Homo sapiens: one gene and its partners. The protein of the gene in region 2 purifies or fractionates together with the protein of the main gene of each other region. This does not show direct contact. Each region holds a gene or a part of one and is shown on either strand. Other genes may lie near its edges. The genes, in order: HEATR3, SPTLC2 and PTH2R.

Evidence for each region.
Region 1: the proteins of SPTLC2 (region 2) and HEATR3 purify together in Homo sapiens (co-immunoprecipitation; one large-scale study listed by IntAct). This does not show direct contact.
Region 3: the proteins of SPTLC2 (region 2) and PTH2R purify together in Homo sapiens (co-immunoprecipitation; one large-scale study listed by IntAct). This does not show direct contact.

The regions. Positions count from the first base shown.
Region 1 is NC_000016.10:50,100,470-50,103,969, reverse strand, and holds part of HEATR3 (HEAT repeat-containing protein 3), read right to left. Parts: intron 1,712-3,500; coding exon 1,535-1,711; intron 1-1,534. UniProt on the Homo sapiens protein: Plays a role in ribosome biogenesis and in nuclear import of the 60S ribosomal protein L5/large ribosomal subunit protein uL18 (RPL5). Required for proper erythrocyte maturation.
Region 2 is NC_000014.9:77,519,086-77,522,818, reverse strand, and holds part of SPTLC2 (serine palmitoyltransferase 2), read left to right. Parts: intron 1-1,237; coding exon 1,238-1,373; intron 1,374-3,733. UniProt on the Homo sapiens protein: Component of the serine palmitoyltransferase multisubunit enzyme (SPT) that catalyzes the initial and rate-limiting step in sphingolipid biosynthesis by condensing L-serine and activated acyl-CoA (most commonly palmitoyl-CoA) to form long-chain bases.
Region 3 is NC_000002.12:208,448,167-208,451,899, reverse strand, and holds part of PTH2R (parathyroid hormone 2 receptor isoform 1 precursor), read right to left. Parts: intron 1,152-3,733; coding exon 1,091-1,151; intron 1-1,090. UniProt on the Homo sapiens protein: This is a specific receptor for parathyroid hormone. The activity of this receptor is mediated by G proteins which activate adenylyl cyclase. PTH2R may be responsible for PTH effects in a number of physiological systems.

The DNA of each region.
Region 1 (3,500 bases), on a different chromosome or scaffold from region 2:
GTAGCCTCCAACTCCTGCACTCACACGATCCTCCTGCTCAGCTTCCTGAGTAGCTGGGATGACAGGCATGAGCCACCACTTAATGGCTAACTTAAAAAAATTTTTTTGTAGAGACAAGTTCTTGCTATGTTTCCCAGGCTGGTCTTGAAATCCTGGACTCGAGTGATCCTCCCACCTGGGGCTCCCAAAGTGCTGGGATTACAGGTGTGAGCCACTGCGCCTGGCCTGTGGTTTTTTATATCAATTGTATGGAATCTGAGTTTGATCTCACCTCTAGTCTAGAGCAGTGGCTCTCAGGTTTTAGTGTGCAACGGTATCATCTGGAAGGCTTGTTGAAAAATAGACTGGTGGGCCCATCCACAGAGTCTATGACTCAGTAGGTCAGGAGTTGGGGCCGAGGACCTGCATTTTGAATAAGTTATCAGGCAAGGGCTGATGCTGCTGATACAAGGAGGGCACTTTTGAGAAACACTGCTCAAGAGAAGTTCTTGATTGTACATAAATGCATTTTGCAGCTAAATATACACTGAATAGCCTTTAACACAAATTGTGGCTTCATTTAGCAAAAAAAAGAGTTTCACATAAATAACTACAGGCTAGCCTCTGGCTAGGAAGAAATCTCATTAGAGCTTTATACCTTTGATAAAAGAAAAACAAATGTTATTACCACAGCAATACATACTGAGTAGGAAAATCAATCAGAACAAAGACCTTTCAGAAGTCAGGGGTTATTTTCCCAGTTCACTGTTTAACCTTTTTTAAGCACCTGCTTCTGCAGAGTTTGATGACTCTAACTATTAATATATCTGCTTTCCTTGAAGCTGCAGGGAAATAGGGGATATTTTTTTCTTATCTTGCAAGCTCTTTATCCAGAAATTTAAAGGACTGTAACCTTTAAGAACAATATGGCTGGGCACAGTGGCTCACACCTGTAATCCCAGCACTTTGGGAGGCCAAGGTGGGCAGATCACCTGAGGTTGGGAGTTCGAGACCAGCCTGGATGACAAGGCGAATCCCCGTTTCTACTAAAAATACAAAAATTATTTGGGTGATGTGGTGGACACCTGTAATCCCAGCTACTTGGGAGGCTGAGGCACAAGAATCACTTGAACTGGGGAAGGGGAGGTCGCAGTGAGCCAAGATCGCACCACTGCACTCCAGCATGGGCGACAGAGTGAGATTCTGTCTCAAAAAAACAAAAAAAAGTAAAATTAAATAAATGCAAAATGTGTATGAAAGTGCTTTGCAAAATACAGAGTATAATACTGACATATATGAAGCATTGTCAAAATTACTAAACTTAAAAAAAGAAGAACTTGTCAGATACCATTTTAGCTTCAGTTTCAATGATTCAGTAGTCACACTGTTGAGCTATGACTCAGTCAACGAACATTTTACAAAGTACTGGGGATGCTGTGCTACATATGGGGATTCGTCATGCACATGCTTCTGAGTTGCACAGCGGTAACTACACACACCCTTGTCCCCACAGAATGTTCAGACTTATGTATTTATAAGTTAAATGGCTACAAACCTTCATTTTAAAGACCGGCTGGAATTCTTTCAGAGCAGATAATAATTTAATTTGAATCGAGGCTCTTTCGGCTTCTTTACCATCTGCAAAAACATCAAAGAGGGCATCCAAAGCTTCTCCTGCTACCACAAGGGAAGGATCTTTGGTGGTAACTTCAAGCAGAAAGCACCCAATGTTCTGGAAACAACAAAACACATTTAGTATGACTAACACCAGTCTCCAAAACAAGTACCAACTTTGAATGTGGCAATAACTCATGCATACTATTTTATATACAAATGCCAGGGAAAAATTAAAACTTCAAGAGATTAGACTTAAATACTTATAAACATACCAAGTATAAGCAAGATAAATTAAACATATTATAGTTTATATTCATAAATAAAGTGAATTAAAATCCATAAATGATGTATGATTTTGGAAATCACTAAATTTTCCCCTCTACCTCTCTCAAAAAGGATTTCTCCATGATGTCAAGATGCATAGAAATATTATCTGTAACAACAACGACAACAACAAAAAATCTGCTTTTAAAAGCATAAGAAAAACACTTTAGGCCAGTTGCAAGTGGCTCACACCTGTAAGTTCAGAACTTTGTGAGGCTAAGGCGGGAGGGTCGCTCGAGCCCAGGAGTTCAAGACCAGCCTCGGCAATGGAGCAAGACCTCATCTCTAAAAAACGTAAAATAGGACTGATCTGAATCGAATCTAGTCTGTAGATCTAACTGTCAGTTTGTAGGAAATACAAGGATAAAAAAACAAATTTACCACCACAAGGTAGCAATCAGACAAATCCAGAAGGTTTTGGACACTATATTGGACAACTGATCCAGGAGGTGAGAATAACCACGTGGTGCCGGGGAGGAACTGTTCAAGATTAAGAGAGAAAGAGAAGACCCCACAGGAAACATAACATGTGGACTTCAGCAGTGTAAACAAGCTCTCTGTAAACAGATAATTTTGAGGCAACTGTAAAATTATGAATATGGACCAGGAATTAGACACACTAAGAAATAACTGTTGCCGGGTGCAGTGGCTCATGCCTGTAATCCCAGCACTCTGGGATGCTGAAGTAGGTAGATCGCTTGAGCCCAGGAGTTCAAGACCAGCTTGGCCAACATGGCGAAACCCCATCTCTATTAAAAATACAAAAATTAGCCAGGTGTGGTAGTGGGCACCTGTAATCCCAGCTACTCGGGAGGCTGAGGCAGAAGAATTGCTTGAACCCAGAGGCGGAGGTTGCAGTGAGCCGAGATCACACTACTGCACTACTGTACTCCAGCCTGGGTGACTGAGACTCCATCTCAGAAAAAAAAAGAAAAAAAAAAAAGCTTTGCAAGTATCATTTTTCAAAAATAGATTCTTAAAAACATCAGTCATCATTGTAAAGTTCTTAGCAGGTTAAGAGGTACTTTATAATAATGAGTTTATTATCCACTAGTCTCACACTTCAGCAATTATTAGCACACCAAAGTGTAATGTTACTATGACTGTCCTTTTAATTACTAGTGACGCTGTACTCCTAACAGTGCAGTTTGTGAGCAACTGTGCTAAGTGGTAAGAGCAAATATGCTGAGGGAATTGCTAGTATATTGGCACTACCAGGGTTGCTGCTTAAAATTTATGGAGTGGTATTAGAATTAATTAACTGTGTTGTATTTTTCAGAATGCATGTTGCCTGGTGTGCAAGGAAAATGGTGTGGATTGTTCATTCATCAGCAGGAGAATGTAACATGCATACATTGGATGCAACAGCAAAGGCAGAAGGCATCTTTAAAAATTCTGAATTTGCCCTTTCACTAAAGACAGATTTATTTTTTTAAAAAAGTACCTCTGGAATAACGTTAAATTGTAAAATGTGGCTCAACTTTTCAAATACTTACCTAATTAATACACATAGTTAGATCAAGCCAAAGGGTATATTCTAATAATATGACTCAATAAAGCAACTTGATATGACTTCTTCT
Region 2 (3,733 bases):
AAAATATGAACTTGCTGATTTTATAATCTATATATGAAAATTACTGCAGCCTTTTCTATTCATGAGTATTCATGGTTGAGAAGATTCTAAAACAGTTCTTAGCCCTTTCCAAGCAGATCTTTTAAATTTATTGCTTTGCTCTGTATAACAGAACAGTTGTTTGGATATCTTTTCAAAGATTGACTTACCATAATGTCAAAACCTGCCCAAATATTTAGTCAGTTGGCAATTGCAGACAGAAACGTGTGTTTTAATCTATTTGTGTTTTAGGGAAGATGAGCAAAATAGGATTAAAGATACGATTTTATACTATTACAGATATGTTACTGTTGTCTGGTAAGAATTTTAAGGAAACAGGCTAGGCGCGGTGGCTCATGTCTGTAATCCCAGCACTTTGGGAGGCCAAGGTGGGTAGATCACTTGAGGTTAGGTGTTCGAGACCAGCCTGGCCAACATGGCGAAACCCTGTCTCTACTAAAAATACAAAAGTTAGCTGGGCGTGGTGATGTGCACCCGTAACCCCAGCTATCAGGAAGCTGAGACAGGAGAATCGCTTGAACCCGGGAAGCAGAGATTGCAGTGAGCCAAGATCGTGCCGTTGCACTCCAGCCTGGGCGACAGAGTGAGACACCGTCTCAAAAAAAAAAGAAAGAAAAAGAAAAAAAGAATTGTAAGGAAACAACAAAATGAAACTCAGAAGATGAAAATTTGGGGGTCTAAAGGCTTCATCTCTGGTCTTATGTGTAAAATTTATTTGCAGCACAGTTAATTAGAATGAATCTTAAAGTTAGAAGATGTAAATTCTAGTTGCAGCTATGCCACTTGCTACTTGTAATGTGCCACACACTATTGTGCAACTGTAGGCATGTCACTACCTTGGTGAGAGTCTCCCCACCTATAATATGAAGATAATCATAAATATCCTGCCTACTGTCAAGGGATTTGTGGAGTGCTCAGTGAGGGGGTATGGCTGAAATTCTTTGAGGATGCTAACGCTCCATTAAACGTTTTTTACATTATTATAACTTCTGCTGTTAACAGGTAGAATGACAGAATACAAAATGAGACATTTTACATTTATATTCCATATGGTTTACTCTGTAAAATATTTTATGGTGAAATGGAAAAAAACGAAACAGAACTGATTAGATAGAATGGAGATAGAGGAGATTTACTGTCTTTTTTCCATTCCTTTTTACTTAGGATTATTTTGTTTTCTCTCACCGTGACTTTCCAGGTAAAGAGTGTGTACAACAGTTAGCTGAAAACACCAGGTATTTCAGGAGACGCCTGAAAGAGATGGGCTTCATCATCTATGGAAATGAAGACTCTCCAGTAGTGCCTTTGATGCTCTACATGCCTGCCAAAATTGGGTACGTTTTGTTGCAGATCACAGACCAGTCTGTCCTTATCCTTATCTGTGATGTGAGACCAGGGCTTATGTATTTTGTTAGGGAAAATGGTCTTGTCCTTACTGTGTTAACCTTCATTTGGTACATATGCCATAGATCAAATAGTGGATTCCAAATTGTAAAGTATGTTAATTTGTTCTTCTTTCATTAAACATTTGAGTTTCATGTACTCTCTAGGGGCCTGGGATAGATCAGTGAATAAAATACAAACATCTCTGTCCTTGTGGAGCTTACAGTCTAGTAGGGGGCAACAGTCAGACAGACATAATAAACAAATGAACTGTGTACGATGTTAGAAGGTGTCAAGTGCTATGGAAAAAAATAGAGCAGGACCTATATGGGGAGTTGAGAGTGCCCTGTGGGCGGGCCGATAACACTATTAAATAGGGTGGTCAGGGTAAGGAAGCCTCCTTGGGAAGGAAAATGACATCTGAGCAAAGATTTGAAGGAGCTGACAGCCACTGGAGAAAGAAGCATCTGTGCAAAGGCCACAGTACAGAAGCGAGCTTGCTTAGCTGACGGAAGAGTAGCAAAGAGGTCCCTGGAATTGGAGCACCGTGCCCCAGGGCGAGCAGTGGGCCATGAGGTCAGAGAGGTTTTATCAGAGTGTGTTATTGGATACTTACCAGGTGTGCAGATTACACCAGCTTCTTTGGTTTGTATGAGGCATACATAATGGAAAGCCCTGCCCTAGGATAGCTTTCAATGTATTTGAGAAGTCCAGATGTATAATGAAACCAGAAGACATTTGAAAAGCAAATGAACAGTAATTATACTGAACAAATTTTATTATATGCAAAGTGGCCCTGAAGATGTAGAATAAAGGAGTGACCTGCTTAGTATAGGCTCAGTAAGAAAGGCACATCTTGTTGGATGGGTGAGTTTTGAGCTGGATCTTAAAGCATTTCTCCAGTTTGATTGAACTCATTGAAGGAGCAATTTTTGTAAATTTTTGAATCCCCAGTGTCCACCACAGTCTCCGACACTCAGTAAATGTTTACTGAAATGAATATGGGAGAGGAAATTAAATCAGGGAACCTGGAAGTAATGTGATTCAAAGAGAATGAAAGGGAAGTAAGGAAAAGGTGCTCCCTGAGAGAAAAAGAAGAATTTGGGTTTCAACATGAAGTCATATGGGCAGTTGGTATTATGGCTTCAGAGGGGATGGGGAAGGATTTTCTTCATTCTTCTTTAAGTGGAATTCTCATAAACAAACATGAAGAGTTATCAGATCCAAAGGACTCAGTCTAGAGCTCTCTTTAAAGAAGGCTGTGTCTCCTTTATTCTACATAGGTGCAACTGACTGTGTACACTTTAATTAGGAAAGATTTAGAGAAGGTACAGGACCCAAAAGGGCACAAAAAAGCAATAACTACTAAATATAAGGAAAACAACTCTGTATACAGCATGTATAAAGAAAAGCAAGGTATATTTGGGGAGATAAAAGTTGTAAAGGCATTAAGATGTGTGTTTGTTGAGAAAAAATAAATTTGTGCATTTAAGAAGTTAAAAAAAAAAGATTTAGAGAAGGTAAAGAATTAGAATAAGGCACTAGACAGTTTGGGAGCATGTGCTGAAGATACAGGGCACCCAGGTTCATGCTGACACAAAGGAGGTATGTTGAGGAAGATGTACTGGTACTACAGAGAGTGGGAAAAGGCTGTGAAAAGACTGGCATTAATGTAATGCCAAATGTGCAGGATCTGTATAGCCCAGGCTGGAGTGCAATGGCGTGATCTCGGCTTACTGCAACCTCCACCTCCCAGGTTCAAGCAAATCTTGTGCTTCCGCCTCCCCAGTAGCTGGGATTACAGATGTGTGCCACCACACCTGGCTAATTTTTGTATTTTTTAGTGGAGATGGGGTCTAACCATGTTGGCCAGGCTGGTCTCCAACTCCTGACCTCAGGTGATCTGCCCGCCTCGGCCTCCCAAAGTGCTGGGATTACAGGCACGAGCCACTGGCCCGGCCACATTTTTTTATTCTCAAACAAATGCTGTAAACAGCTTAAAGGAAAAGTTGAAACATAAGGGAGGTCAATAAGAGGAAAAGACAAAAAGCAACATAATTTGGGCCAGGCACAGTGGCTCACACCTGTAATCCCACTTTGGGAGGCCGAGGTGGGTGGATCACAAGGTCAGGAGATCGAGACCATCCTGGCCAACATGGTGAAACCCCGTCTCTACTAAAAATACGAAAATCATCTGGGTGTGGTGGTGCACACCTGTAATCCCAGCTGCTCGGGAGGCTGAGGCAGGAGAATTGCTAGAATCTGGGAGGTGGAGGTTATGGTGAGCCAAGATCGTGCCACTGCACTGCAG
Region 3 (3,733 bases), on a different chromosome or scaffold from region 2:
CCCTTTACACTTAAATGGTTATTTAAATGTATTAGGTGTACCATGATACATTAAAATGTATCCTTAAAAATGATACATTTTAAATGATTTATAGCATTGTTTTCTTGTACTTTAAAATGACACATTAAATTAGCTCCATGCTACCTGGAAGAACTTAATGACTCACAGTTAGAGATAAATTCCACTTCTAATATGTGTTTATTATTTTAAAATATTTAATTCTGCTATAGAAGATATGGTAACAAATGGGATGCATGAAACCCACAGTTTGCATTAAATATAGATAAGGATGAGTTAGTAGACCACACGTGTGTTAAACCCAGGTACTAAAGACACATGAGGCAACTGAGCTCTAAACATTCATAATATACTAAATATACAAGAGCCATGAACAATCCCTGATACAAAGGAAGTTCTTAATATTTTTGAGGGCATTATCAGCCTCAAAAATATTTTGATTTTGAGGATTCATGGATTGATGGAACTCCTTCCCACATGTCCTTTTCCCAAGGGCCACAAATAAAACCCAGAACTTCTCTGCAGGCTAATTCAGAAGCTACAAATGTAGCCAGTGTACTTGCCTCTCCATCTCTATGAGGAAGTATGTGTCACTGGCCCAGGGCACCAGATTCTGTCTGTAGTTCCCCTTCGTGCTACCTTATCGCAGGTCCTCATAACCACACCATCCTCAGGAAAAGTTGATGTGGCAGAGAGAGAGAGAGAGAGTATGAACACTGCCTATCCTAGGAATCAGGTAGTGTAGTTCTTCAACCTGCTTTCACTAAATCCTAAGTGGATTCTCTTACCCATCTCTTTCCACTTGCTTCTCACATTATATTTTACATTTGTTTCTTAATCTATGGAGGTCAGGCACCTTCATCTAGTCTGCGAGTGTTTCTGCTCTATGACCTCTGGAATAGACAGCTTGCTGGTAATGTGTTGGAAGCTACCATCGCATCAAGGTAATTTTCCTTGTGGCATCCCTAAAAAGCAATGGCATCAAGAACAGAAGCGAGTGTGAATTCTGAGCAGGAAGCCTGAGTCTTGAGAACATCTGAGGTTCTCTCGTTTCCCCTGCCTTTTCACTCACCTCGCATCAGCCAGAGTTGCTCGTGCCACAGCCCATGCTGCAACAAATGCTGCTGGAAACCCTGAAATCAGAAAATGATTCAGAGACTAGATTTATTTTAAGATTAAGGAGGTTTTTTCCTCAAATTCACCATATATAAGAATATACTATTAGCTGTTCAGAGATAAAAATAGACATGAAAATTTCTGATATGTGAACAAGAAAAGTCCACTTAATTTTTAATCATGTCAGTTTGAGAAATTAGCAAGAATATTGATGTTATTTGTTCCTCTAGTCTGAAGATAAAAACTGGCCTAATTTTCATCTGAGGGGTGTAGGGAAAAGCCATATTTGGAGAAGAGTGAAGTTCCTAGGGTTGGAAGTAAGCAATGGTTGGCATTTGACTTTGACTCTTGTCACGCTGACCATCATATGCTCTCAAGGAGTGAAGCAACACAGGGACTCCTGAAAAGCTGAGGGATGCTGTTGTTTTAAAAACTTAGAATTTTTTCATCCTAAAAATGGAAGGCATACTGAGGCAAGTTATAAAAATCAGGAAGTTTTAACCAGTTTAGTCTCTTCTTTTAGTTCACGTTGGCACAAGACAGAAGCATTTTCATGCATTAATAGAAAAGGGTGACCACTATATTTGTCTGATGATTTGAGCGCGAGATATTTGTCCTTCATAAGTGCTAAACACCTTCTGGGCTTGTAACATCAAATCCATTATACCGACTTTCGTTTGCCCCCCAGTAAAAGTTCACTGTCCAGCTCATGTTGTATTTGATTAAACTCTGACATCACACACAAAAAAATCATGAACCATAACTTATATGGAATACTGCAGTAGGGGACTGAAAGACTTAAGAGATGACTTTTCATTATGTGGCCTTTATGAAAGTGGTTTAAATAAAGGATATACAGAAACCATAAGGAAAACATTTTAGAATCTAGGAAGCACCTTACAAAAGGGGAAAACAAAATTTTGGTCTAGCCAAGAACATTTTTTATCAAGCATAACTTTAAATTCTTAACCTTTAAAAAAATTGTAATTTTTTTATATTCTTTCTTAGCAACAAAGTGAACAAAGAAATAGGCTTAGAAAAAGAAAATTTTCAGAAAAAGATGAAAATGATGATATGCACAATAATGTCTTTGGTCTCCTTAGTGACCATCTAACTTAAGTTCAGCCTGCCTATATCACTACTGAATTTTATGATTCTATATTCCAATTTTATTTCTTGTTTCTATAGTATTCTTTCTTTAATCTGCTCAAATTCTGTGTTCTAGGAATTTTTTGTCAAAATAGACCTACCTAATTCTGGTTATTTCTTAGGTTCAGTTTGCATATTCTATCTATCTATCTATCTATCTATTTATCTATCTATCTATCACATTTCTCCATTAATCATTTATTGTCTATTTATGTGTCAAAGATTGTTCTAAATGATATAAATAATGAACAAATAAACAATATCCCTGTTTTCTAAAACTTATATTCTGGTGAAGCAGTCAAAATTAACAAAGCAACTTCAGTTGCTTTTGGTTATGAATTGGTGCTATGAAGAATAAATAAAAGTGATACTATGTAATGGGGAGGGGACAGCTGCTTCTGGTAGGATGATTAGATATAAATCCACCATACAGTCTGGCATAGATTCTACCACATGGCCTGACATAGATCCCTCAGCTGTTCTATCTTGGTTGTCTTCAAAAAGTGTCTGCCTGTCTTTCATCAATTTTCACATCTTATCATTCTTATATCTGCATCTTCTGCTTCCTTTACATTCTTCTGATCAGGTACTTCCTGAATGCTGTTCTATACAGTATTTATTAATGGTGGTTGAGTTGGCATTATGTTTTAGATGATAATTATGTCAAATATCGTACACAGGCATTATGTCTTCATAGAATTGCTTTTCTCACCTTCTTAGAGAATCTTATGCATAAGACTAGCATAGAGACTACCATGGAAGAATGAAGAACAGAAAACTACTTTGGGATCCTTTAAGGATTTTTTATCACGAGTCTTAATATGAATTGTTACATAATTTAGAACACAGAAATAAAGGCAAAAATACTTGACATGTAAATGTTGTTTTAAATTTAAATGTTAAATTAAGTAAATTTAATATAAATTTAAATGTTATCTAGTATGTGCATTTACTGAAAGTTGAGTTATTTTCTTTTTTTTTTTGAGACGGATTCTTGCTCTGTCACCCAGGCTGGAGTGCAGTGGCATGATCCCGGCTCACTGCAAGCTCCGCCTCCCGGGTTCACACCATACTCTTGCCTCAGCCTCCCCAGCAGCTGGGACTGCAGGCGCACGCTGCCACGCCCGGCTAGTAGAGACGGGGTTTCACCATGTTAGCCAGGATTGTCTCGATCTCCTGACCTCATGATCCGCCCACCTCAGCCTCCCAAAGTGGAGTTATTTTCATAAGACACGTCAATACAAAATAAATAAGTTTTGTGAAGACAAAACTTTAAATTAACTTTAAAATAACTACAAATTAAAAATGTTGAATATGATACATATGATCACAACAAGAAAACAAACAAAATAACCTAAAGGGTCAGAGTGCATGCATCTTGTGTGGGAGACTTTAACACCTGTCTCTGTGTTTAAACACTTACTGCCAAGTGGATGATCAAAAAATGTTT